Homo sapiens: one gene and its partner. The protein of the gene in region 1 interacts with the protein of each later gene in a biochemical or structural test. Each region holds a gene or a part of one and is shown on either strand. Other genes may lie near its edges. The genes, in order: WRNIP1 and TOLLIP.

Region 1 (2,844 bases):
GCATGTGGGGATCTTCTCAGAATTACCTAGAGCTGTGTATCAGAAGGGGCTCTGCAGAACAGAAGCTTGGCATCTTGCTAGTAAAATGTGTCCTCTGTGTCATTGGTAGGTGCTTCTGGCCCAGTGTGTGGTCTACTTTGCCAGAGCCCCAAAGTCCATTGAGGTGTACAGCGCCTACAACAACGTCAAAGCCTGCCTGAGGAACCACCAGGGGCCACTGCCCCCCGTGCCCCTGCACCTGAGGAACGCGCCCACTAGGCTGATGAAGGATTTGGGCTATGGCAAAGGCTACAAGTACAACCCCATGTACAGCGAGCCTGTGGATCAGGAGTACCTGCCTGAAGAGTTGAGGGGGGTAGATTTCTTCAAGCAGAGGAGGTGCTGACTCCTCAGGGCACGACAGCAGAAGGATGTTGCTTTTTTAAGGGAGGGCCAGAAAGAAAGTTAGTGGATTGCAAAGTTGGTTGCCTGGTGGAAGTTAGAACAGACCAACATTTTGTGCCAGAAATTTAAGAGTTCCATAGGTGGAGGCGCAGTTCTTTCGAATAAATGTGTAACTTTGAAATTGTGTTCATTTGCACTCGGTGCAGCGGTTATGCTTATGAAAATACCTGGCAGCTTTGTGCAATGAATTAATGTTATAAGGAATTATCTATTTTGTCATAGTATTTAAGTCATAATGTCATTTCAGAATTCAGTTCTGTAGGATTTTCTTTTCTTTAAAAAATGTATATTCTGGGTAGTTTTAATTGGTAAAAAAATGTAATTGTGATTTAATACTGCATAGTGTTTTGGGTATTTTTTTTATATGCAAAGGTCTTACGAGCCAATAAAACTATTTCAAAGTACTCTTCGATTCTGTCATGGTTTTCCTGCCTGGATGCTAGGTACCAGCGTTGTCACCATTGCATTTGGTGGGTGGATACTGGGAAGGAGAAATCACCCCAGATGGGAAGAGTGGGGAGCTTAAGTTAAGAAGTCAGTGTTATCTTGTTGAAAGTTAACTCTGATCTCTTTAAAGGAATACATAAAGGAATTCTTTAAATGGCTTGTGGAAGACTCCAGTAGTCCCATGCCCATTTTTTCCCACTTGTCCTGGTTTCTTCTTGCAGCTCCATATTTCTAAACAGTCGTTTTTCTTTTACTTTATGTGTGTCCTGAACACAAAATACGCCACTCCTTCTGCTCAGTTAAGAGTTATTTGTCCCTACTGCTACTTCCTCTCCCTCTCCTTAGTTGCATGTCGTGCATATGCCCACAAGGATGGCCCCTTCAGGTAGTCGGTTCTCCTCCTGCTGTTGCGTGATCCCTCCTGGGGTCCTCCTGCCATGTCTGGAAGGCTGCCGGCTGTTGGCCTGGGACGTCCTCTGCCTTTATTCTGAGTGAGATGCCCATTTTCTGGATGCTCCATCCCGCCTTACTGGTTTATTCCGCTATTTCAGTGCAACCCATCCTCTAGTAGTTTTATCAGGCTGGAGGGACTGTATGTTGCAGAGGCTTGGCCCGACTGGCCTCCCTCCTTCTGTCTGGAGTGGTTGCACTGCAGTGTGCAGTTGCCATCCCCAGAATCTCCCTTCATCATCACCCTGGAGCTTTCCTCTGCTTCTCCCTGCACCCCATCTGATGACAGGACTGACTGCTTTCTGGCACAGGTGGCATGTACCCTCTAGTAGCTTTATGGAGCAGGGGTGTGTGGAGGAAAAGTATTTTTAGACCTCAGGAGACTCAAAATGCTTTTATTGTACCTTCAGACGTGTCTGAGGGTTTGGCTAGTAATAAATTGTAGGTAAGAAATTACTTGTGCATTGTTTTACACTTTCCCACATTGTTGTCAAGTTTGAAGGCATCCTGATGTGTGTGGTCTTTTGTTTGTAACCTCTATCAACTTGTAGACTCTTCTGTCTTTGCTCCCCGTGTTTTAAAAGTCTGCACTGGGTACTTGTTGGGCCTTTCAATCTGGAAACTCCTTTCAGTTCTAGGGAAGTTTCTTTTTTTATTCAATAAATTTATTTATTTATGAGACCAACTCTTGCTCTTTTTCCCAGGCTGGAGGGCAATGATGCGATCTCGGCTCACTGCAACCTCCACCTCCCAGGTTCAAGCGATTCTCCTGCCTCAGCCTCCCAAGTAGTTGGGATTACAGGCGCACACCACCACACAAGGCTAATTTTTGTATTTTTAGTAGAGACGGGGGTTTCACCATGTTGGTCAGGCTGGTCTCGAACTCCTGACCTCGGGTGATCCACCCACCTCAGCCTCCCAAAGTGCTGGGATGACAGGCGTGAGCCACCGCGCCCGGCCTCAATAAATATTGAGTGCCTGTTTTATGCTGAGCATTCTTGTTGATGTTAAAACACATCAGTGAGCAGAAGAGACCAAAAATTCTGTGTTCTTAAAGCCTATGGTATGAAAAATAATATGTTAATATGCCAAATAGTGATAAGTGCTATGCTAAGGAGAAAATGAATGAAAGATTGAATATGGAAAGGGGAGGTATGGGTGCAGTTTTAGTAGAGTAGCCAAGGTGGATCTCACCAAGAAAGTGTTTGAGTCAAGACTTCAAGGAAGTGAATGTGCCTTTCAGACACCCGGGAAAGGATCATCCCAGGCAGAGGGAAAAGCAAGTGCAAAGGCGCCGAGGGAGGATGGAAGGCTGGGTGGGTTCAGCATCCAGTAAGGAGACCAGTCTAGCCGGAGGGGAGGAAAGAGTGGTAGAAGTCGAGGCCGAGGATCATGGAGCTTCAGATAAGGTGGGACCTTTTAGGTCATGGGAAGGACTTTGGCTTTTACTCAAGGTTTCCCTCAAAGAGTGTCATGATGAGACTTTGATGTTATAGGGATCCC
Region 2 (3,814 bases), on another chromosome or scaffold:
GGTTGGGCTGGGAGGGCAGGGCACGGAAAGAGAGGTGTGGGGTCTGGAGGTGGAGAGGAGGGAGCCCCAGGGGCCGAGGATGGAGGGAGGCAGGAGCTGGAGGCCGCCGGAGGGTCCTGGGCACAGGAGGACTGGACTTGCCCTGGAGTTTACCGGCTCAGCGCAGCACTCTGTAAAGTGTTGCCTGGCACACGCAAGGCAGGGCCCGCCTTGGCACCAGCCTGCTTCGCTGAGCATGACCCACCCCAGCCCCTCTGAATTAACCCATAGTGGGCCTTTACCCAGTTACTAGCACCTAGAGGAGCCCTGCTTTTGCAGGATGTCTTGACACAGTATTTATCATGTCCTCTTTCTGTTACACCTGTGGTGCCAGAGAGGCAGGAGGTTAAGCAGGGCGCTCGCTCAGCTTTCCAGCAGAAAGAGATGCTCCCCAGGGTCCGGGGGCAGGACTCTGGCTCGGGAGACCCTGACTGTGGTCTAGCCGTTGCCTCCCCCTAGTGATAAGGGGAGACGGCAAGATCCCATGGGCCGTGAAGGAGCAGAGGGGCCGCTAATGGGGTCCTGGGAGGGTTCTTTTGTCCTTGGGTAGAGGGAGCTTCAGGGGCCCGGGTGGGTAGGTGTGGAGAGGACGTGTGAAGCTAGCCAGCCCGACATCGTTCTGAGAGAATCATACCGTGTTTAGATCTTCAGGATAATGGTTCCCTGAATAGCCACTAAGGGATGCTTCAGCCCTGTGCAGTGCTTCCCTCACGTTTCAAAAAGGCCAGTATTTTGGAAAGATAACCTTTTTTCAATATAGTCTGCATATTATCAGAAAGCATGGGTGAGTACCTGCAAGGAGTACCATGTGGACCCCTGCGAGGGGTACCGTGGGGGCCCCTGCGAGGGGTACTGTGTGGACCCCTGTGAGGAGTATCATGGGGGCCCCTGCGAGGGGTACCGTGCGGGCCCCCGCGAGGAGTATCGAGGAGTACCGTGTGGACCCCTGCCTTCTGCAGTGAGATCTCGGGACGTTTGCGGGAGACTCCGCTGCAGCCACCGCGGTGCCGTCAGAGAGGCCTCCTTGGTAGAGGTGGGTGCGCTGTGCCGTGTCCAGGCTGCTCTGACTCCTTGTCCTGCTTCTGGAGGTGCTGGTTGGCCATGGAGTCCAGCTGGAGGCGGCCTGGCCCCTCCCTTCCTCCCTGAGAGGCCTGTTCCTGTCCAGGTCCCCTCACTCTTCACATCGTTGATAATTCCTGCCGAATCGGTGACTTCATTAGGGATGGCAGAGGGTAGTTTCTGAACTTTATCACTTCTTCGGTGTTTATTAACTGGGATTGTTTGTAAAGATTAGCTTTCCCCATCAACCGGTGTCGGCTGGCTGTCCTGAAACACAATTCGTGAAAGAAAGGCAAGTGAGATGCTTTTCCCTCATCTTCCCGTACCTCAAGGAGAGAGTTGCTTTTCTTTGTAGATGTGTGTGGGCTTTCTCTCCCCTGAGTGTTGTGAAGAGCCCGTGGATTTTCCTGCATCCTGTGTGTCTGAGCCAGTGGCACTTACCCGTCTCCGCTGGCTCTGGTGGGCTGCTCCTGGGAGGGCGTCCGTTCCTGCTGACTGCACCTGAGCCAGCGGGGAACGCACTCACCGCCTCCTCACGAGTCCTTTCTCTCTGGGTTCCTGTGAACCTTTGCGCTGGATTTTTTAGGCCGGGTTGTGAGTCTGTACAGGTGTGGAATTGCTGTGCTTGCCTGGAAATCACATCTTTTCACTGTGTGGGGACCCACGGGCCTCTTGGAAGATAAAGGCCTCTTGCCTTTGATTATTTTGTCTGATACTGGCATGGCCACCCCAGCTGTCTTTTAGAGAGTATTCACCTAGTACTTTTTCCTTCTATGATTTTACATTTTTCTGAAAACTTTTGTTTAAGACACGTGCACCATCGATAGCACGTAGCTGGATTTTTAAAAAGTCAAATCTAAGAAGACTAAGTCTTTTGATGGGAATGCGCTAGTTTCATCTTTCTAGTTAAGAGATGCCTAGATGGATACACAGATTTACAGATTTTTTACATGTTTTCTTTGGTGCTTTTATTTGTCCTACATTTTCTTATTTTTTTTCTCTCATTGCCTTTTGAATTTATTAAATGGAGTTTTAAAAAATTCAGTTGTTTTATCTCAAGTACATACACACTGTGCTGGGAAAGTACAGGGGCTCCCCTGGAAATGGTAACATGCACTTATCAGCTTCTGCCATGAGGGAGTCTCTGAGTGAACTCTGGCTCCGGAGGCTGCCCGGCTAAAGAATAAATAAAGAAGAAGTTAATCATTGTCTGTGCCACCTCCGGATCCACGCGGAGACCTCGGCCGCCCCGTCCTGGCGCGGGTGCTGCTGTGCCTTGTGTGGGTGCTACCTCCCCTTGGGGCTCCCGCAGGAATGTGTTACTTCTCTCGAGTCAGCGCTTGTTTAGATTTCCTTCTGTGTTTCTCTTTTCTTATCCCTTCTGGTGTCTCGGGCCTTCCATTTGGGGTCACTTTCCTTTAGCTTCAGGTTCATCTAGAATTTTCCTTGCTGGCAAACTTGATTTTTGCTTGTACATGCCTTTTCTCTGTGTCCTGACAGCTATTTTTGTGTGTGTGGAACTCCAGGTGGGCGGTACTCCAGGTGGACAGTACTCCCGGTGGACGGTCACTTGTCCTCAGTGCCTCGAAGGTGGGACCCCGCCCTCTCCTGGCTCCTGGAGTGGCTGCTGAGCAGCCCGGGAGTGGATGTCCCTTCCTCCGGCTTTCCTTCGTTTTTGGCCCTCTGTTTGCTGCCTTCTGAATACGCTGCTTCTGGCCTGCCTCCCAGTTCACTTGAGGTCTTTTTTTTTTTTTTTTTTTTTACATGGAGGCTCGCTCTGTAGCCCAGGCTGGAGTGCAGTGGCACAATCTCAACTCACTGCAACCTCTTCCTCCCAGGTTCAAGCGATTTTCCTGCCTCAGACTCCCGAGTAGCTGGGATTACAGGCGTCCACCACCACGCCCAGCTAATTTTTGTATTTTTAGTAGAGATGGGGTTTCACCATGTTGGCCAGGCTGTTCTCGAACTCCTGGTCTCAAGTGATCCGCCCACCTCAGCCTCCCAAAGTTTTGGGATTACAGGCGTGAGCCACTGCACCCGGCCCTAACCTCTGTTCATCTGGGCCTCTAACACTGTCCCTTGACCTGCCCGACAGGCCCCTGGTTAGGCCTGCTGTGCAAGTGTTTCCTGTCCCTGAGTCACTGTCTCCAGATCCTGCGGGCCCTGCCCTGGCACCGTGCTGGTGAGGCCTGCCTTGCTGCCCTGTGGGAAGTGCAGCGTGCCCCTGCCACCCGGCCTTGCCCTGTTTCTTTGCACAGCGCCTCCTGCCGTTAGCATACAGCATAACTCATGATGCTTCCCGTTTGTCTTCTTCCACTCACGTGTAAGCATCCCAGGAGCAGGGGTGCCCCAGCACCTCACCATGGAAGCCTCAGGCACACAGTGACACGCAGAGGCTGCCGCAGCGCGCGCCCTGTGCCCGGCGCCCAGGGCCTGCCACGTCACATGCCGTCCCTCTCTGGATCTCTGTCCGCCCTTGGCCTGCTGCTTGACTGGCTTTTGTTTCATCTGAATGAGAAGGGGTTTTCCGCCTCTGCCTTGCTTGACCGTCCCAGCACTTAGGATGCAAGGCTGCCTGCAGTGGAGTTCCTGGCAGAGACCCCATTTAAAGTCGCTTGTTCTGTAGTCAGCTTTTATAATCTATGCTTATTCTCATTCTGTCCTGTACTCTTCCCTTTCACCGCTCTTCAGCTTACACGGGTTCGTTTCAATACTG

The links.
Region 2: the proteins of WRNIP1 (region 1) and TOLLIP form a complex in vitro, tested with the Homo sapiens proteins (one study listed by BioGRID).

The regions. Positions count from the first base shown.
Region 1 is NC_000006.12:2,784,898-2,787,741, forward strand, and holds the end of WRNIP1 (ATPase WRNIP1), read left to right. Parts: intron 1-109; coding exon 110-385; 3' UTR 386-2,055; downstream 2,056-2,844. UniProt on the Homo sapiens protein: Functions as a modulator of initiation or reinitiation events during DNA polymerase delta-mediated DNA synthesis. In the presence of ATP, stimulation of DNA polymerase delta-mediated DNA synthesis is decreased.
Region 2 is NC_000011.10:1,303,081-1,306,894, reverse strand, and holds part of TOLLIP (toll-interacting protein), read left to right. Parts: intron 1-3,814. UniProt on the Homo sapiens protein: Component of the signaling pathway of IL-1 and Toll-like receptors. Inhibits cell activation by microbial products. Recruits IRAK1 to the IL-1 receptor complex. Inhibits IRAK1 phosphorylation and kinase activity.